Linked DNA regions of Homo sapiens: all the other regions are linked to region 3. Evidence: fine-mapped expression QTL. A gene starts in region 3. Each other region holds a variant in brackets. All regions are shown on one strand. Distances are between the middles of the regions. Region 1 overlaps STK10 (serine/threonine kinase 10). Region 2 overlaps STK10 (serine/threonine kinase 10). Region 3 holds the start of STK10 (serine/threonine kinase 10).

The links. PIP is the estimated chance that this variant, and not a neighbour inherited with it, causes the effect. A credible set is the group of variants that fine-mapping cannot tell apart.
Region 1: its variant is the best candidate, but not a certain one, in a credible set for the expression of STK10 in whole blood (INTERVAL, PIP 0.50).
Region 2: its variant is the best candidate, but not a certain one, in a credible set for the expression of STK10 in whole blood (TOPMed, PIP 0.89).

Annotation. Positions count from the first base shown.
Region 1 is chr5:172,162,523-172,169,563 of GRCh38, forward strand. All of the region lies in intron 1 of STK10 (serine/threonine kinase 10), which reads right to left. Among named protein-coding and RNA genes, the nearest start is that of STK10, 22 kb to the right of the region's middle. RefSeq lists an enhancer at 1,975-2,954. The variant A/T (reference allele first, on the strand shown) is at 3,538.
Region 2 is chr5:172,109,860-172,116,900 of GRCh38, forward strand. The region is part of intron 4 of STK10 (serine/threonine kinase 10); the gene reads right to left. Among named protein-coding and RNA genes, the nearest start is that of STK10, 75 kb to the right of the region's middle. RefSeq lists enhancers at 1,229-1,698, 5,000-5,309, 5,238-5,738. The variant G/A (reference allele first, on the strand shown) is at 3,324.
Region 3 is chr5:172,184,817-172,191,857 of GRCh38, forward strand. It overlaps STK10 (serine/threonine kinase 10), which reads right to left and starts at 3,408. Exons shown (of 19, transcript NM_005990.4): 1 at 3,071-3,408. The coding sequence starts at 3,226. RefSeq lists enhancers at 141-190, 1,231-1,280, 1,551-1,600, 2,261-2,340, 3,393-4,168 and silencers at 2,801-2,880, 3,011-3,060, 3,361-3,720.

The sequences.
Region 1 (7,041 bases), 22 kb before region 3:
TCCCCACCAGAGGGCTGGAAAGAATCCTTTCCTTCTGCACACATTCCTCTTTCTCTTCCTACTCCTCCCCTTCCTCCTCTCCAAACCCAGAAGAGAGGTTACACCAGCTCTGCTCCTTTCCTGAGAGGAAGGTTGAAGGCTTAGTGGAGTGGCTAGAGCCAGGGCCAGTGACCAAGGCAACCACCTTGACCATGCTGAGCTGGCCAAGGGCCCCCCTTCAATCACTCATCTTTCAGTCCTGAAAGCTGGCAAAGAAGGCCGCATGTCACCTTTACCTGGGTTTCCTGAAAAGGGATGTTGTCTCCTGATGGTGGAGGAGGCCCAGGTGGGGACCATTTTCCAGGAGTGCACAAACCTTGCCTTGCCCACCATCCTGAAAGGCAGCACTGACCAGACGGCCAGGCCTCAGCCAGTACCAGTGTCAACACAAGGCACGCCCGCTACCCAGCACCTCACTCAGATTCCATGGAGACCAGAACCTGCCAGACAGAGGTTAGTAGGAACCACGGACCAAAAAGTGACTTGGCCAAAATTAAATTCTTTCAAAGCCTCGTTGAGGCAGCAATCCATCACCTTGAGGCCACAGGAGATGTAATACGGCTGATGATAAAAACAGCTAACACTGACTGAGCACTCTCTGTGTTCCAGGACAGGACTTAAACGGAATTTCTCACTTCATCCTCCATCCAGCCCTTAAAGACAAATATTATTGCCAGTTTACAGATGAGGAAAAAGATTCAGAGAGGTGGGGTGATGTGCCTCAGGTCACACAGCGAGTGGGGGTGGAGGGTAAAGGCTGGATCCAATTCAAGCCTTCCTTACCTCCAAAACATTTCCCCCAAAGACCTTTCCTGATGACTGTCCAGAGCTCCCTGTTCTATCTCCCTTTGCTAAAGATGAATGACAATCACAGCCAATAGCAACCACTCACAGCAAGGGAGTGCCTGGCAGCTGAGGAGTGCTCAGGCAGCCAGAATGTCATCTGCCAACAAACCGTTAAGGCCAGCGTTAGCCTTGGTGCCGGTTTCCCAAGTGAGCAGACTGAGGCTTGGGAATCCAGCAGGACTGTGAGCTGTCACAGTGGCCTCCTGACTCCCGGCCTAGTGTTCACTACACCACACTGCCAGGAAGCAGCTTATTCCCTAGTCATTCATTCAACCACTATTTACTTGGCTAAATTCTAATGAACAAGACAAGCAATTTTCTGCCTAGGAAAATTTGCATGAGGGAATCACTGCCCTCCCATATCATAATTCACCCTTCCCCGATTTTTCTTCAGCAGGGACCAACCTGCCCTCATTTCCAGTCCCTAAAATACAATATCTAGAAGTGGGTAGGGACTCATCTTGGCCAATCAGAATACCGCGCTCCCTCTGGCCACAGTGATTGGCTCAAGAATAGGCACGTGGCCAGGCGCGGTGGCTGACCCCTGTGATCCCAGCACTTTGGGAAGCCTAGGCAGGTGGATCACCTGAGGTCAGGAGTTTGAGACCAGCCTGGCCAACATGGTGAAACCCCACCTCTACTAAAAATACAAAAATTAGCTGGGCGTGATGGTGCATGCCTGTAATCCCAGCTACTCGGGAGGCTGAGGCAGGAGAATCACTTGAACCCGGGAGGCGGAGGTTGCAGTGAGCCAAGATAGCGCCATTGCACTCCAGCCCGGGCAACAAGAGCGAAACTCCATCTAAAAAAAAAAAAAAAAAAAAAAAAATTGGCATGTGATCAAGTCAGCCAATGAAATGCATTCTCAGAACAACTGCTGAGCCAGCTGAGACTGCTGCAAGCTCTCCTTGACTTCTAGCCTCCAGCCTAAAGCCATCCTGCCCCTAAGGGGGCCTGAAAATCAAACTAGGTCTGAGGCACTAAAGCTGAGAGAGGGCATGAGAAGACCGTTGATCCCTTCAATTAACTTTTACAACTCTCTATTAAGGGCTTTATTTTATATATAAGAAAACCGATGCTTAGAGAGATGAAGTCACCGGCCCAAGGTCACACAGCAGGTTCAAAGGATTAGGAATTGAATTCCGGCCAATGTGGGTTCAAATTCCATGTATCTGACAGCTTTGCCAGAGATGCCTGTATATTCTGCAAAAGTCTCATCTGGGCCTCAGTCTCCCCCCTATATGGGGGAGGATGGATGGTGAAATGATGTCCAACTCTCTCCATGCTCTGATGAGAGCCGTCTTAGGGAGTGGGTGAGTCTTGGAAAGCTAAGGGTGGTCCAAGTAGATGAGGCCCACGTGGGAGTTGGCAGGCAAGGAATAGCATAAAGAACAAGCGGCTGTCTGTGGCCTCCGATGTCCCTCTCTCCCAGCGGCTGAAGCAAGGCCGGGTTCCGGCGCACGATGAGGGGAGCCTTGGCCCAGCCTTCCACTGCTGGCTGGCAGTGACTAACGCCTCAGCCCACACCCTTGCGAGCAGATACACAGTGGCCACTTGTGTTTTCTGGCCCAAGCACCTCTGTGGGAACAATCCTCCCCCTTGTACCCGCAAGGGGCCCAGCCTGGAGGAGGTGGGGATAACCCTCCCAGCCGGGGACACTGCTTCACCCAAGGGGCCCAGCCAGCCCAGTCAGGGGCTGGGGGCTTCCTGAGAGTCAGCTGCACAAAGGCCAGCAGGGGACCCACCCCCAGGCCCTCCCCTTCCCTCCCGGCTGCCCACTGATCAGTGTGTTGCTCCCACCGCTTCCCGGGAAATAGCTGATATCACAGACCTCAGGACAGTGAGAAAACATTAGCCACCCCTCCTTAACTCCAGCTCCCCAACCCAACTCTGCAGATGAGGAAGCTGAGTCCACCAAGGCGAATGCAGAGACCAGGGTCCCATCTGTGACACTTGTCTCATCTGTGACACAGGTGTGCCTCAAGAAGAGTAAATGAGAACACAAGAGCAAAGAGCCTAGAGGGGCCTGTTCCTGGGGCACCCCTAACCTCAGGTCTGGGAGCCACTGGAGCTGCTGGGAAATTGACCCTGGGGCTGGGGAGCAGTGGGGGACTTGGCCAGCATCCATTCCCCCTTGTGGATTCAAAACTCTAGTTGCTTTTGGACACTGCCTCTCCCTCGCTCTGAGTCCAAGGGATTCATAGCGGGTTGACCTCACCCTGGGCCGGGGCATACCCCAGGCCCAGCTAATCAGAGGACTGAACCAAGGGCGCCTGAAAATGAAACTTGTCACAGTCATTGGTTCAGAGATGCCTGGGCATGGTCCCAAGGCAGGCCAACAGGGTCGTGCCTGGGTGGCTCTTTAAATTTGTTTTTGGTTGTTTGCTTTTTTTTTTTTTTTTGAGACGGAGTTTCCCTCTTTGTTGCCCAGGCTGGAGTGCAATGGTGCGATCTTGGCTCACTGCAACCTCCACCTCCCGGATTCAAGTGATTCTCCTGCCTCAGCCTCCCGAGTAGCTGGGATTACAGGCATGCGCCACCACGCCCGGCTGTTTTTGTATTTTTAGTGGCGACGGGGTTTCTCCATGTTGGTCAGGCTGGTCTCGAACTCCCGACCTCAAGTGATCCGCCCACCTTGGCCTCCCAAAGCGC[A/T]GGGATTACAGGCGTGAGCCACTGCGCTCGGCCAGTTGTTTGCATTTTTGCTGAAGTTATCAGGACAGCAGCTTTTTCTTTCTCTGGCGCTGCTAAATCGGTAGAATGAAAGGCTGAAGGGTCTTGTAGCCCATCTTGCCACTCCTTCAGAGTGGCTGCCGGAGGGTGAGGCCAAGATGGCAGAAGCAGGGCTCACAAATGGAGTGCTACTGGCTCTGTGGAACACCTGGAGACAGCTGTACCTGAAGGCGGACTCTACCCGTAGACTTCTCAGTTACATGAGCCGATAAATTCCCTTTTGGATTCCTGCCATTGGCCACCAAGAAGGAGATGAGTTCCCTCTCTCTGGGGCTGTTCCAGCAAGGAACAGATATCTAGAGGAGTGCCTCACCACACAACACGCGTGTATCAAGGGCCACCTTCATTCCCAAGCCCACCATAATCTATAAGGTGACATTCACTGAGACCTCACCAAAGAGCTGACTGATAATCTAGGATTTGGAGACCTACATGGAAAACACGTAGGACAGAGGCCAACAGCAACTATGGAATTCTTCTGCCAAAAGAATCTTCCTCCAAAAAAGTGGAAAGGATCATTTTACACTTAATAAATTAGCAAAAACATGCAATTGTGACAACCCAGCACTGGAGACGATGTAGTAAAATGGGTGAACGCATTACTGACAAGAATAGAAACTGATTCAATCTTTCAAAGACAACAATTGGAAATAGGTTTTAAAAGCCATGAAAATACCTTTTCAGCCTATTATCCCTCATTCCTGGGAATTTAAGGCCAGGAAATACTTTTAAAAAGACAACAGGCCAGGCACGGTGGCTCGTGCCTGTAATCCCAGCACTTTGAGGGGCTGAGGCGGGCGGATCAGAAAGTCAGAAGTTCGAGGCCAGGCTGACCAACATAGTGAAACCCCGTCTCTACTAAAAATACAAAAATTAGCCAGGCAAGATGGCGCGCACCTGTAGTCCCAGCTACTCGGGAGGCTGGGGCAGAAGAATCACTTGAACCTGGGAGGCAGAGGTTGTGGTGAGCTGAGATCGTGCCACTGCACTCCAGCCTGGGAACAGAGCAAGAATCTGTCTCAAAAAAAAAAAAAGAAAAAAAAGAAAGGCAACAAAAGAAATGTACTAGGATCATGTTCAGTTTATATTAGTCCATAATAATAGAAAAAAGGTGAAATCACTAAAGACAATGGTTAAATTAACTTAATGGGATATTAAGTAACCCTTAAATGATAAACAAGAAGATAATACAGTAATGAGAAAAAATCCTTAAGCCATAATAGTAAATAACAAAATAGGATAATGAAATTGTAACTAGGCTACAATTTTCCTTTGGGAAAACTGCATGTGCCTATGGACAGGGACGAGCTAAAACACAGCATAATGAAGTCAAGCGATTTATAAAGATGATTTTCACCCAGTGACATCTGGCAATTATCCACAGGGGTCCCAGCGAGGGCAGACTGGGACTGGTGCAAATAAGCCTCCCACATAGAGAGAGACCACTTCATCTGAGCTTGCCTTACACGTTCCAGAGACAGACACCCTCGTTCTTTCGGAACCCACATGAGCTGCACTGTCTGATACAGTAGCTACTAGCCGCACGTGGCTATTTAAATTAATAGATATGAAGCAAAAATTTAGTTCCTCAGTTGCATTAGCCACATTTCACGTGCCACCACACTGTGGCTACCGTATTGAACAGAGCAGGTACATACAGAACACTTCGATCACTGTAGAAAGTTCACCCCCAGCCCTCTCTGGCAGAAAATGCCTCTTCGGAGGTAAGGGAGCATCTAAAACTCACTCCACTGTCCCAGACCCAGATTCTGAAACATGGGTTTCTTTTTCTAGGAAGCAAAAGGGGACATGTGCAAGGAATCAGCAGAGGAACCCCACCCAATGATCATTTGCTACGGAAGTCTCCTAGCAACCTGGCTGAGTGGCAGGTGTGAGGGAAGGCTCCCAGCTGACCTGTCGGATGAAAAGCCTGGGTGTGGGTCAGAGCCAAAGGACGGAGCAGTCAGGGCTCAGGGTTCCTATTTCCCTGTCTTTATTCTGGACGGCCGTGCCAGGCATGTATCAAATATGGTTCAGGCCACTGGAACCAAAGCAGGGCTTGGTCTGGGTGTCACACAATGTACAGCTGTGCTGTCCCTGCCTGAACACAGTTAATCTTTGCATGGTGATGAAGGCGGTCAATCGCAGGAAGGGCTGCGACTCTATTTAGGAGAGAGAAAATCTGGCCCCAGAGAAAACCACGGTCACAGCAGAACTGACTATGTGCAGGAAAAGGGCCCAACATAAAGCCAAAGGGGGTGACCTGAGGACAGCAGACACAGAGCCGGGGTGGCCAGCTGACATGGGCTTGAGTTTAGAGCCCACTAAGGCCCCTGGCTGGCAGGCGTGAGTCAGCAGAGGACAGGAGCCTTATGCACCACGGGCCTGGGCCTTGGGAGGCCCAGGTCCTTGCGGGCTCAGGATGAAAAAGGCCTGTCAAACCCTCTTATGGTCTCTTGCTGCAGGGCAACGAGCAGCCCGCCTTTCTCCAGCACAGGCCCATGAAGTACACAGAGGTACCACCATCGCCTTTTATGGAAGAGAAAAGGGAGGCCCAGGCAGAGAAACTGACTTGTCCCAGGTCACATAGCTAGGAGGCACTGGCAGGCCTGGAGCTCAGCTCTGGCTCTCCGCCCAGTGCTCTGTGCCCTCAGCAGCCCACCAAAGTTGTCATGCCAGGGGTCTCCCGCCCAGCTGCTCAGTGTGCCAGCCCTCCTTCCCCTCTTTCCCTCCGTGGCCTTCAACCAGAAACACTCAGGGTGAACCCTCAAGGGCTCCTAGCTGCTGACAAGCTAACGCAGGAGCTCCCTGGCCCAGCACTCACACCCTCATGACCTGCCCCTGCCCACTTCCCCAGGGTCCCGCCATTCCCTCTCACTCAGCCCCGTGCCTGCTGCCTACTTCCCAGCCCTCTTCATGCTCCCTCCTCCACAGAGAACACCTCCTCCCTACCTGCGTTTAATCAGCCAGCAAAATCGAACTCAACCCCAGCCTAGCTCATGACATCTTCCCCAGAACCCCAGCCCACCTCCCCGACTAGAATCTCTTTGCACCTTGTTAAGGTTTTCATCGCAGACTGCCCTGTCCCCTGGGCATCTGCATCACAGATTCTCTGACCTGGCTGTGATCTCTGAAAGGCTCAGCCCACCTGACTCCTCTCAGTCTACCCTACAGAGCCTGGCACAGAAGAGCCAGTGGGTAGATGGGACAGTGGGAGTGGGAGTGAACGGGAAGATAGGTGGGCAGACAAGCACATGGAGGAGTGAACGGATGGGAGGTAGGGGCTGGAGGAATGGATGGGAAAATGAGTTAAGTGGGATGGTGAATGGATGAGAGGTTGGGTGAATGGATGGGTGGGCAGAAGAATGGGAGGGTGGGTGGATGGGCAGATGAATGGAAGGATGGACAGATGCATGGGAGAGTGAG
Region 2 (7,041 bases), 75 kb before region 3:
GATTCATCCCAAGAAGCTGCAGCATTATGACAACTTCAGGCCACCCCGGGCACCAGTGCCTGGTCTTGAAATGAGCTGTATCCAGGAGCTCCTTTCAGACTTGCAACGTGAAACAAGGAGGCAGCACAATGCCAAGAGGCTGGGCCTGAATACGGGAGAACTTGGTTCCAGCCTCTGCTCTTCTGCTTCACTGTCCACTCACCCATTCATTCAGGTGCTCACCAGGCTCCATCAGGAGCGAGACACTAGCCGGGATCAGAGAATACAATGAGGACCCTCGGGGAATCCACAGTTTAGTTGGGGGAGCAGAGAGTAAGCAAATAAACAAACATCTACTCCTAACATGGAAAGTGTTGGGAAGACAGGACCGGGGCTACTCAAGAGTGCACAGTAGGGGGTGTGACCTCGAGGGGACGGTCATGGAGGGAGGGCTGGGGGCTTTGGAGGAAGGACAGTTTTATTCAGCATACACTAACTGCACATCTATTATGTGCCCGACACTGTTCTAGGCACAGAGATGAAAGCAACCAAGTCCTGCCTGACATGCCACATGTTATTCCCGTGGTGGCGACAGGCACCTGGCAAAACCCCCGGAATGCCTGGCAGCGAGAAGGGCCCAGGGCTGAGAAGGCAGGGAGAAGAACACAGTGCTGGGGTGCAGGGTGGGGAGCTACTTTAGACACAAACTCAGGATCTGGGGGAGGTATTTCCAGGCAGAGAAAACTGCAAACAGACTGGGAGGCAGGAAACAGCAGGCTGGAGGGACCAGCGGGGACAGGACACAGCCTGGCCGGAAGGAGGGGGCCGGGGGTGGAAGCAGATAAGGCAGGAGACGGGCAGGGCAGTTACAAAGCCTCTGAGCCTCAGTTTCCCCATCTGTGACACGGGGGTGATAGCACAGAACCATTGCGCAGGTTTTCCTGAGGATTAAATGACAAACGCAAAGCACTGTGATGCAAGGTCCACTCGTGGCAAAAGCGAGAAGATGGTGATTCTTTCACCGGCCCATGAGCCAGTCCAGCCTTTTTCAGGCTGGGGCAAGGCTGAGGCTGAACTAAGACCCCCCGGCACCTCCTGGGAGTGGTCAGGAAAGCTGGCTTCTGAGCCCCGGTTAGTGCTAACTGGACAGCAGTTGCTATATCAGGGGACAGTCTGGCCAGCAAGAGGGGACAGGGGGCCCTCAGCCTCCTGAAGTGGGACCAACAGGTGCTGCAAGTGAGGTGCAGAAGCAGGAAACCCAGGTAGAGCCTGGCTCTGCTGATGACTCTGGCAGGCGGCTCCCCTGGGCCTCCAGGGTAAGAATGGGAAGCTGGCCCCACCTTCCTGCTGGGTCAGCCAGGCCCCCCTGTGGGCCTGGCTCCCTCGCAAACACCACTAAGGGCTGGCACATCATCCCATCCCAGGAAACCTTTTGGGAACAGTGACTGCCTCTCAGGCCCAGGGTGAGGATCCCAAAAGGTGGCCACTCCCCGACCACAGGCCCTGCCGATCCCTTCCTGAGAAGAGAGACGAGAAACAGAAACCACCAACGTGCAATGACACACCGTAGGTCCCCAGGGCCTCCCTCAGGCACGCACCAGCCAGCTCTTTGGGTAGCTGCTACTTCCCCTTCTGCCCCACACGATGGGGCCCAGATGGGAGAGTGGGGCAGCCCCACCTTGCAGCCCAGAGAACTGAGCCTGTTTGCTCCCTCCGCAGAGTTTATAAGGGAGTGTCCCTTGATAGCTGATGGCTGCCCTTGAGCAATTCAAAAGGGATTTTCACCATGCAGTCTCTTCTGATGAAAACACTCCCCCTTCTCCTCCCATTTTAAAATGTATTAGAGACAAGGGCGGCGGAGATAAGGGAAATCTCCCTTTCTCCGCTGTAATTTCCATAAAGAAAGAGATCATTTCTGCTGTGGCCACAGTTGTATCCCTGGCACGTTATCTGGAGCAGGAAGCACTCAACAGGTTTATCGAATGAGCATGCTCATAAATAAATAAAGAGACAGAATTTGCTAAAATGCCTTTACTCATATATGTAAAAAATAAAACTGGGTTTTAAAAACTTGTTTGCCAGCAATTCTATTTGTAGAAATCCATCTCTAAAACCAGATCTATAATATATATGGATGCTTATAAAAGCAACAGCCAAAAAGAATGGAAAATTGGAAATCATCCAAAGTGTTGCTGGAGCTTCATTGCTGAATGGTTAGATAAGTTGTGGTTCACCCCAGCTATGAAATAACATGCAGCTCTTAAAAAGAATGAGGCTGTATTTGTATGGACTAACTTGGAAGTGTATCTCTAATACATTAATACATGTCCCAAACATGTTGCTGACTGACTGATGAGTCTTATAAAATGTGTAGCATGATTCCAGAAATGATCCAAGTGCAGGTACTCCAGTAGAAGATTATCTTTAAAGGAATAATATATGCATCTTGTGTGTACATGTCTGCACGCATGTGCATACACACACACACACACCGGTCTGGAAGTCTGCACATCAAACTTAATGTTCATCTCCCTGGAAGTGGGATTTTGGTGGGGGCAGTGCACAGAAGGGACCTTACTTTTTTTTTTTTTTTTTTTTTTTGAGACAGAGTCTCGCATGTCACCCAGGCTGGAGTGCAGTGGTGTGATCTTCGCTCACTGCAAGCTCCACCTCCTGGGTTCACGCCATTCTCCTGCCTCAGCCTCCCAAGTAGCTGGCACTACAGGCACCTGCCACCATGCCCGGCTAATTTTTTTTTTTTTAGTAGAGACGGGGTTTCACCATGTTAGCCAGGATGGTCTCGATCTCCTGACCTCATGATCCGCCCACCTCGGCCTCCCAAAGTGCTGGGATTACAGGTGTGAGCCACTGCACCCGGCCAGGACCCTACATTTTTCACTTTACACACTTTTATTCTTTTTTTTTCAGATGGAGTTTCATTCTTGTTGCCCAGGCTGGAGTGCAATGGCACGATCTCGGCTCACTGCAACCTCCACCTTCCGGGTTCAAGCAATTCTCCTGCCTCAGCCTCCCAAGCAGCTGGGATTACAGGCATGCGCCACCACGCCCGGCTAATTTTGTATTTTTAGTAGAGACGGGGGGTTTCATCATGTTGGTCAGGCTGGTCTCAAAATCCCGACCTCAGGTGATCCACCTGCCTCGGCCTCCCAAAGTGCTAGGATTACAGGCATGAGCCAACGCGCCCGACCCACTTTTGTTCTTTAAAATGTTTTTGATAGAGTGTATTGTTTCTATGGTTTAAAAAACTGAAATGCATATGTAGCAAAGTTTTTTGGTTTTGTGGGTTTTTTTGTTTTTTCTCTATTAAGTAAAACCCAGTAGGG[G/A]CCAGGATGTGGTGAAAAGAGAATTGCACACTGCACTGGGGGGGGTGTCAACTGGTATGACCAGCACGGAGGGCATGCCGGCTGCAGGATGAACAAAACCCCAACTCACTGCACACACCCAGCACTCTGCTTCTGAGAATTCCTCTTCAAGGTATGTTACAGAAAGAGACGCAAAGATCCATGAACAAGCACACTCATCACTGCATGATTTCGTAAAGATGATAAACCTCATGAGAAACCCAAGTATCCAATTCAGGGCTTTCCTCAGGGCTCTGATAGGTAAATTACATTTTGTGCCTGTGATGGGTACAAGAAAAACACGAAAATAATCATGTTTCTGAGGAATCTTTAAGGATATGGAGGAATACGCTGATATTCAATGTTAAAAACCAGACTAGGAAACTGTATATATATATAATAATCCTAGTTTATCTTATAAAAACTAATATTGTCACCGGACACGGTGGCTCATGCCTGTAATCCCAGCACTTTGGGAGGCTGAGGCAGGCAGATCACCTGAGGTCAGGAGTTCGAGACAAAAACCAACATGGAAAAATCCCCTCTCTACTAAAAATACGAAATTAGCCAGGCGTGGTGGCACATGCCTGTAATCCCAGCTGCTCAGGAGGCTGATGCAAGAGAATCGCTTGAACCCAGGAGGCAGCGGTTGTGGAGAGCTAAGATCGTGCCATTGCACTCCAGCCTGGGCAACAAAAGCAAAACTCCATCTCAAAAAAAAAAAAAAGAAAAACTAATATTTACTGAGAACTTACCATATGCATAGCACTGTGCAAAGAAACTTATGCATATCATCTGCATATCTATTCCTACACACATCGTTTATATCTATGACCCTTTAAGGCAGGGAAAATTATGACTCCCATTTTACAGATAAGGAAGCTTAACTTAAGAAAGACTAAGTAATGCACAGAAGGTCACCCAGCTGTGCTCTTTCCCACTATCTGATCCGACTTTTCTGCAGACAAAAAAAGACTTGGAGGGAAGCCCACGGAGAGTGGTGGTTTATTCTGGCAGGATTAGGAAGGACCTTAATTCTCCTTTTTGTGGGTCTTATTCCAAATTGTGTACAGGACTCTAGCTACTCTCGTGTGTGTGTGTGTGTGTGTGTGTGTATGTGTGTTTTCTGATTACCAAAGTCATGTTGCTTATTAAAAACTCATTATTTTTCAGATTAAAAACTATAATACTGACAACTAAACATTTACGGGTTTGCTGTGTATAGCTCCAAATTTATGTATATTAAAATTATATATATATATATATATATATATTTTTTTTTTTTTTTTTTTTTTTTTTTGAGACGGAGTCTCACTCTGTCGCCCAGGCTGGAGTGCAGTGGCGCAATCTCGGCTCACTGCAAGCTCCGCCTCCCGGGTTCACGCCATTCTCCTACCTCAGCCTCCCGAGTAGCTGGGACTACAGGCGCCCGCCACCATGCCTGGCTAATTTTTTTGTATTTTTAGTAGAGATGGGATTTCACCGTGTTAGCCAGGATGGTCTTGATCTCCTGACCTCGTGATCCGCCCGCCTCGGCCTCCCAAAGTGCTGGGATTACAGGCGTGAGCCACCGCACCCGGCCGGTTATTTTTATTTTCTTCCGTTTTTTAGGAACCTAGAGACGCGTGCCCATTTGATAAGGGCTTCGTCTTCCGGTTTGACCCCCCACCTTCGGCCTTCACTGACTCTCCTCCTCGCAACACACTGCACTGTCTTCCTGACACCCTCCACGCACTCACCGCCAACCCAGCCCTTTCTTGTTGCTTCCCATCCCTCAAGCTTCTGCCTCACTTACTTCCCCTCTGCTGGGCCTGTGCGATTCTCACAGGCTGGGCAGGGTAGGTAGACCGCAATTTTTTTTTCTGGCCAGTCCGAATCCTCCCTTCCTCTGAAAAACCATCTCCCCACCCACCACACTGCCTCATTGCGGGGGCGAGGGCTACTTCCGTGTTGTCACGTGACCCCACCCTCCGTGCCAGAGACTGAAGACAAGCCGGGCCTGTGGGAGACCCCCTCCTGCCTGGGCCTCACTGATTGGTCCAAGGATTACTATCTGGGCCAAACGGGGCCAGTCAGAGCCCTCCCCTGGGATTATTGATGCCAAAGCCTCCAATGGTGAGTTCGGGTTCAGGCAGCAGCAGATGATGCCGGGAAATGTGAAACTAGATGGTATCCTGAGCTTGGTGGAGAGGGTTGGTCTGGGAGCCGAACCTACATGCACAGAAAGCCAAGGGCCAGGGATACGGTCCTGGCAGCGTTAAGGGCCAGGGATACGGTCCTGGCAGCGTTTATGTTCCAGGTTTCAACTAACTTTAAGGCCCACCCAGCTGTATTTCTTCTCCAATTTGGCTCCATGATGTACACATTTTCCTGTCTGCCTTAACTCTTAGGAAGTGGGTTTTTATCATTTGCCACTAAGAGAGGCGACAAGAGGGTAGTGGTTAAGCACGTAGGCTCTGGACCCAGCTGCCTTGGTTTGAACCCCAGTTGTTCCTCTTATCGGCAATGTGACCTTGGATAAGTCAGTCTTGCTAGGTCCCAAATCCATCCTGCAAGATGATATCAGTGGCTTTTGAGAATGGAATGAGTTAACACATATCAGATGCTGGCTCAGTGCATGGTAGCTCTAGTGAAAGAACCAGGCCCCCAGCCTGCTGGTAGCAGGAAATAGCAATGCTGGGCTGGGTGAAGGCAGCAGTGAGAGATGGGCAGTTGGCTTCCTGACTGGTCCACCTGCCAAGTCTCCAGCACATTGGGCGGGGCATGGGGGTTGGGAGTTGGGGATGCTGAAGTAACTAACCATAGGCTAAAGTGGTGGTCATGCTGGAAGTGACTGTTTATTGAGCACCAACTATGTGTTGTTTGTTTTTTTGTTTTTGTTTTTGTTTTTGTTTTCGTGAAACAGGGTCTTACTCTGTTGCCCAGACCGGAGTGCAGTGGTGCAATCTCAGCTCACTGCAAACTCTGCCTCCTGGGTTCAAGCGATTCTCCTGTCTCAGCCTCCTGAGTAGCTGGGAATACAGGCGTGTGCCACCACGCCCGGCTAATTTTTGTATTTTTAGTAGAGATTGGGGTTTCGCCATGTTGGCCAGGCTGGTCCTGAACTCCTGACCTCAGGTGATCCACCCACCTCGGCCTCCCAAAGTGCTGGGATTACAGGCGTGAGCCACCATGCCTGGCCGAAAATCATTACTTTAAAAAATGCATTGTAGCCATATCATTTGGCGATGCAGAAGTACACATGAGAAGAGCTCAAAGCGCTTGTCTCTGCAGGTGGATGGCAAAAGGAGACACGTGAGGGGATGACACATGTATGTGTTATTTTGGTTAAAAAAATAAAAACATTAAAAATACAAAGAGGAGACATTTAAAGAAGAAGGTTTTGAGCCGGGCGGGGTGGTTCACACCTGTAATCCCAGCACTTTGGGAGGCCGAGGCGGGTGGTTCACTTGTGGTCAGGAACTCGAGACCAGCCTGGCCAACATGGTGAAACCCGGTCTCTACTAAAAATACAAAAATTAGCCAGGTGTGGTGGTGGGTGCCTATAGTCCCAGCAACTCAGGAGGCTGAGGCAGGAGAATCACTTGAACTGAGGAGGTGGAGGTTGCAGTGAGCCGAGATTTCGCCACTGCACTCCAGCCTGGATAACAGAGTGAGACTCTGTCCAAAAACAACAACAAAAAAAGAAGGTTTTGATATA
Region 3 (7,041 bases):
TAATTTTTTTATTTTTTTATTTTTAGTAGAGGTGGGGTTTCACCATGTTGCCCCAGCTGGTCTCAAACTCCTAACCTCAAGTGATCCACCCGCCTCGGCCTCCTGAAGTGCTAGGATTACAGGCGTGAGCCACAGCACCTGGCCCTGGAGTCACTTTTTTAAAAACTGACTTTCCACGTGCTTTGGAGAACCAAGAGGAGACAGTATCGATTGTGGATCGGATGAGTTCCTTTGTATGAAACTTTCAGAGTAGCAGGGGAGTCTTAAGGGACTAAAGCAGGAGGAAACACAACTGAAAATGACAAGGGGAAATCTTACCAGCATGAAAGCAAAGTTCTGCGTTTAAGTTTAAAGGAAGATGAACCCTGTGAAGCCAGGACACACTGCGGGGAAGGGGACAAGAATGCAATTGAAAGCCCCTAACGGAGAAAAAAAAAAGCCCATATGTTTGTTTTGTTTTGTTTTGTTTTTGAGACAGAGTCTCGCTCTGTCGCCAGGCTGGAGTGCAGTGGCGCTATCTCAGCTCACTGCACCCTCCACCTCCCTGGTTCAAACGTTTCTCTTGCCTCAGCCTCCTGAGACGCTGGGATTACGGGCATGCATCACCATGCCCGGCTAATTTCTGTATTTTTAGTAGAGACAGGGTTTCACCATGTTGGCCAGTATGGTCTGAATTTCCTGACCTCATGATCTGCCTGCTTCAGCCTCCCAAAGTGCTAGGATTACAGGCGTGAGCCACCACGCCCGGCCCAAAAAACCCATATGTTTAGCATACGCTAAAAACACCAACTGAACCTTCTGGAGAAAGTGGGTCCTGTGGTGAGCTGACCACAGGGGTCCAGCTGCCCTCACAGTAGTCAGAGCACAGCTGCAGGAGCAGGCTCTGTCTAAGGCAGTCAAGGACACTGGCAGTGTCCAGAGACAGTTGCAAGGCTGAGGATCGTTCTCTGGTGCCACCAGGAAGAAGATGCAGCTCTGAGGAGAGTAAAGAAAAGACGTGCTGAGGACAGGGTGAGCTGGCTGCCCTCAAATATGGGCAAGGCCCTCAGGCAAAGGAGGACAGCAAGTCGGGGCAGTCCAAAAGCACTGCCTCTCGGATCACAAGACCTCTCCCTACCCCATAACAGGAAGTGTGGGCTCAGAGGGGAGGTGGCAAGGAAACAAAACAGGCACCAGGCCAGGCACAGTGGCTCACGCCTGTAATCCCAACACTTTGGGAGGCCGAGGTGGGTGGATCAACTGAGGTCAGGAGTTCGAGACCAGCTTAGACAACATGGTGAAACCCCGTCTCTACTAAAAAAACAAAAATTAGCCAGGCATGGTGGTGTGTGCCTGCAATCCCAGCTACTTGGGAGGCTGAGGTAGGAGAATTGCTTGAACCCAGGAAGTGGAGGTTGCAGTGAGGGCCGAGATCAAACCACCGCACTCCAGCTTGGGCAATAGAGTGAGACTCCGTCTCACAAAAAATAAAAATAAAAAAAGACACTGAGTGGGCCTGGTTGGTCTCAAAATTGCCACCGCTCCAGGTCAGGCAGGGTGGCTCACCGCTGTAATCCCAACACTTTGGGAGGCTGAAACGAGCTGATTTCATGAGCTCAGGAGTTCATGACAAGCCTGGGCTACGTGGCGAAACCCCAAGTCTACAAAAAATACAAAAATTAGCCGGGCTGTGGTGTGCACCTGTAGACCTAGCTACTCCGAAGGCTGAGGCAGGAGAATTGCTTGAGCCCAGGAGGCAGAGGTTGCAGTGAGCCGAGATCGGGCCACTGCACTCCAGACTGAGCAACAGAGGGAAACCCTGTCTCAAAAAAAAGAAAAGAAAAAAGAAAAAACGCCACCACTCCAAGCCTCTAGGGCAGTACTTCTCAAACCTATTTGCTTAGGAATCACCTGGGATCTTATTAAAACGTAGACTCTAATTCAGCAGGTCGGGGCTGGGCATGAGATTGTTCACTTCTGACAAGCTCCCAAATGATGCTATTATAACACCGGTCATCTAGGAACTACTTCGGTAACTAGGCGATAGACCACTTCCAAGTCAGAGGAGAAGGCCTGGAGAAGCCTTCTCTGTGGTCCAGCCTCATAGAACGGCAATCCTAGGGTCAGAGTGCCCTACAAGCTACAGGAGCCCCAAGGAGGAGGATAGTGGCTTAGAAGAGAGGTGCTCTCCTGGAGGTATACACCAATTTAACAAGTGGGCGTCTCCCAGTAAAAATTTTCTTAGGGGAAAGGGGGGAGTCAAGCTGTAGGTGTTGGCTCCCTAAAACAACTCACCACCTCAGAATTAGCTCCCAGGAGCAGAAACCAACGTCCTGCTGCCACACTTCTCTAGACTCAATCAGCTCTGCCCCACCCACTCCACAAAAGCTCTCTGCCGCGTCTTCCTCTAGGGGAGAGGTGACTGCAGGCTGGGAGACTCCCCAGCTGTGACTCAGACCGACGGAATCAAATCTGTTCCCCCAGGCTCAGCATTCACCAGATCCTGACCTCCCCCTCTGACCAGCCCCAACCCACCTTTCCAAGCCCCACCTCTCAGTCCATGGGCCACCCCTCGCCCACCCCACTTCCCTGTCTCTGGCTCATCTTCAGATGTGTCCCTAGCTCCCAACCCGTCCAAGCGCAGCCGAGTTTCTCGGTCCACATCGCCTCGATATTCCCACAGCATCTGTGGTCTCTCTTAAAAAAAAAAGTGTGCCCGTATCGCCGTTTTACGGAACGTCCCTGGAAGGTCCCTCGAGTGGCCCTCTCGGATGCTGAGGTCCTGTCAACGCCCCTTTGTCTCCCCGTGCGGCGCCGAGCGCAGTGCAGGACACACAGGAAGTGCTCCGAAACAGGGCTAGGGTGGGGGCGGCAACCGTGCCCGGAGGGGGCGCCCAGAGCGCAGGGACTCGGCCGGGCCGAGTGATGTTCCCCCCAAAAAACAAGAGTCATCGGGATGAGGGCCAGGGACCCCGAATTCAGCGCCGGGCAGCCCTCGGAGCCGGAGCCAGGCTGGCCGGGTCCGGCTCAGGCATCCCTTCCTTCCGGAGCCCCTCGACGCGCGTCCGGCCACCCACCTCAGCGCCCTCACCTTGTAAACCTTGCCGAAGGCGCCGTCGCCCAGCTCGCCCACGATCTCCCACACCTCGTTGGGGTCCAGGTCGCGGCGGACGTGCTCATATTCGCGGGACTTTCTCTTCTCGAAGGTAGACAGGCGCAGGATGCGGCGGAAATTGGCAAAAGCCATGGCCGGGGGCGCGGTGGCGCCGGCTCGGGCTCGGGCTCGGGCTCGGGCTGTGGCTTCGGCGGCCGCGAGGAGAAGGAGGAGGAGTTGGAGGACGCCGCGTCTCTCGGGGTTCTCCCCAGACCCGCCTTTCCCCGCAGCCCGACCTCGGTCAAGTGTGCCCTGGGCAGCGCCGCGCCGGGAGCACCCGGAACCGCGCAGGCGGCGGCGTGCCCGCCCCCGCCCCCGCCCTGTCAGGTCCCCAGGGCCGCCTCCCTTGTGCCGGCCTCGCAGCTCCTGCCCGGCCCAGCCCTGCCTGCGAGAGCCTCGGACCCGTTCCAGGGGACCGTCCCCGCGCCCGCCCACCGGCCCGGCTCCACCCGCCGCTCCCCGGCAGAGCCCCGGGACCCCCTAATTGGCTGCGGGCGCTCCCCGGCTCCGCCCGTCGCCGCAGGGCACTCTGGAAACTGTAGTCCCCCCACACCACGCTCCGCGAGCCGCGGGCTGGGCTTTGGGGAAGCTTCGGGGACCGCTCGGTGGGACCGCTCATGGACTCAGGAGCCCGCCCGCCGCGCCGCGTGGCTCCCAAAACTTTTATGGGAGCAAGCGGGACGGCGACTTGGCATTTCGCGAGAGCCCACGGATCGTTGTCAGCGCCCAGAAGGTGAACCTGCACTCGTTCATTTAATCCTCCCGCAGCTATTCCGCTAGGCTGCCCTCGCCCCCACTTTTCCGATGGGGACGCCGGCAGGCGAGGGCACTCGCCCCAGGCACACACGCTGGCTGCCCGTCTGCTGCGGGTTCCTCGGCGCGGTGCTGCCTCCTAGTGTGCGACGGGCAACGCCGGTGCAGCCGCGGCCAGTCCCTGCAGGGCCCGGCTTCCCGGCGCGGTCCTTTCCAGGGGCTCCCCGTCCACGATCCACAAACCTGCCAGGATTAGAGGGCTGGGAGAAAGAGCTCCTTTGGCACTGATTTCTCTTATGTTTCCTGATGGGTTTGCGGATGTATTTGCATATTAAATAAAAACTTTATTCTAATTTTTAATTTCCTAGTTTCAAAAAAGATGAGCGCACTACATACAGATCAAACTAAAGTCTTCTTTGAGCACCTTCATTCTCGATCCTGGCTACTTGAGTCACTTCACTGCTACTGTTGCCTGTTTGTCCTATAGACGGTTATAACATGCTTTTACCTGAATCTAAGGAGAGTGCTGGGGGTGGGGGGGGGGGGCGGGCAGTCTGCAAGGGTTATTATTTGGACCGTGTCATAAACAAGTTGAGTCTTCGCAAATGTCACAGTTCAATAGCTCCAACCCCAGAGAACGGCTGTGTTGAGGTGTTTTCGCCCCTTCCTCGGTGCTTTGTTCGAAAACATCCTTTGAACAGTGTGCAAACACCAAGCATGGTTTTCCACTGGGAAAGCCAGCTCAAGAAGCCTGCGATGCTGGTAGTGGTCGGCGCAGAGGGTGTCCTGGTTGCTAAGCCGTTCGGAATGTTTCCACAGCTGCAGGAGTGCCTGGAATTGTAGAGGGTCTTTAAAAGAAGGAAACGCCGCTCGTCGCTGACCGTTCTCATTGAGTCAGGCGCTGTCTGAACCTCCCAAAACATGCTGAAAGGCAGGTCTTTCATTTGTTTCAGACCATTTGGCCAACTGTACGAAGCGGGTGGGGAGACCAAGAGGGTTGCTTCCATACTAGGAGATGAAGGCTCTGACTCCACGAAAGCTGTAGGCCTGGAGGGCTCTGACCAGCTCTGAGAGCTCCAGAAAAGCAAGCAAGCGAGAGAAAGAGAGAGAGAAAGGAAAGAGAGAAAGAGAGAAAGAAAGAAAGAGAAAGGGAAAGGAAAGGAAGAAAGAGAGAAAGGAAAGAGAGAAAGAGAGAAAGAAAGAAAGAGAAAGGGAAAGGAAAGGAAGAAAGAGAGAAAGAAAAAGGAAAGGAAGAGAAGGAGAGAGAAAGAGGGAGGGAGGGAGGGAAGGAAGGAAGGGAGGGAGGGAGGAAGGAAGGGAAAGAAAAACGGAGAGGTTCATTCATTCAATAACACTAAGTCAAAGAAGCCAGACACAAAAGGCCCTGTGTTCTATAAATTTCCATTTATATGAAATGTCTGGAAAAGGCAAATCCATACAGACAGAAAGTAGATTAATGGTTGCCTGGAGCTGGGTGTGAAATGGGAATTAACTGTACATGAACAATAAACAGTCTAATTGGGGTGATGAAAATGTCCTAAAACTGCACAATGGTGACAATTTCATAATTTGGTAAATTTGCCAAAAATAATTGAATTTTAAACTTTCATTTTTGTAAATGGATGAATTTTATGTGTAAATTATACCTCAATAGCATTGTAAGAAATACATTGAGGTTCAATAGAATCAAAGCTACTTCTTTGAAATAACTAATAGACAAGACTAGTCAAAGAAAAAGAAAAAAAGGGTCGGGCACGGTGGCTCACACCTGTAATCCCAGCATTTTGGGAGGCCAAGCTGGGTGGATCACCTGAGGTTAGGAGTTCAAGACCAGCCTGGCCAACATGGCAAAACCCCAGCTCTACGAAAAATACAAAACTTAGCCGGGCGGGGTGGTGCACGCCTGTAACCCAAGCTACTTGGGAGGCTGAGGCAGAAGAATCACTTGAACCCAGAAGATGGAGGTTGCAGTGAGCCGAGATCGTACCATTGCACTCCATCTAGCCTGAGCAACAGAGCAAGACTCCGTCTCAAAAAAAAAAAGAAAAGAAAAAAAAAAAATTGGTGCAAGAAAGAAATATTCACTGGAAGAAATAAAAAATGAAAAGAGAACATCAGATTAGATACTGTAGAAATTTTGATAATCATAAAGTGATATTTTAGACAAATTTATGTGAATAAATGTTTTAATTTACATAAAATGGGTAATTATTGAGAAGAAAATATAAATGATAGGTAAAAGATAATTTCAATAAGAAATAAAAACCTAAATAAACTAGTAACCAATAAAGAAATCAAATCAAGAATCAGGCCGGGCACAGTGGCTCATGCCTGTAATCCCAGCACGTTGGGAGGCTGAGGCGGGTGAATCACCTGAGGTCAGGAGTTCGAGACCAGCCTGGGCAACATGGTGAAACTCTGTCTCTACTAAAAATACAAAAATTAGTCGGGTGTGGTGGTGCGTGCCTGTGGTCCCAACTACTCATGAGACTCAGGCACAAGAATCCCTTCAACCTAGGAGACGGAGGTTGCAGTGAGCCGAGATCACACCACTGCACTCGAGCCTGGGCAACACAGTGAGACTCTGTCTCTAAACAAAAACAAACAAACAAAAACCCAAAAAACAACAACCACAAAAATCAAGAATCAAAAGCTTGTTCTTGGTGAAAGACATCAGTCTGTGTGGTTTTACAAATAATTTCTTTCTTTATATAAATTATTTTAAAAGATAGAAAATGAAGGAAATCTGCCAATTTATTTTATAAGATGAGTTTTACTATTACTAGATAAGGACAGTAAAAGAAAATTGTAAGCCAGGCACAGTGGCTTACACCTGTAATTCCAGCACTTTGGGAGGCTGAGGTGGGAGGATCACTTGAGCCCAGGAGTTCCATACCAGCCAGAGCTATAAAGTGAGACCCTGTTTCTACAAAAAGTCAAAAAATTAGCCAGGCGTGGTGGTGCACACCAGTGGTCCCAGCTACTCAGGAGGTTGAGGCAGGAGGATTCCTTGAGCCCAGGAGGCCGAGGCTGCAGTGAACAGTGATCTCACCGCTGCACCAGCCTGGTCTCCAGTGAGACCCTGTCTTAAAAAGGAAGGGAAGGAGAGGAAAGAGAGAGAGAGAAAGAAAATTGTAGACTAATTTCATTTCATT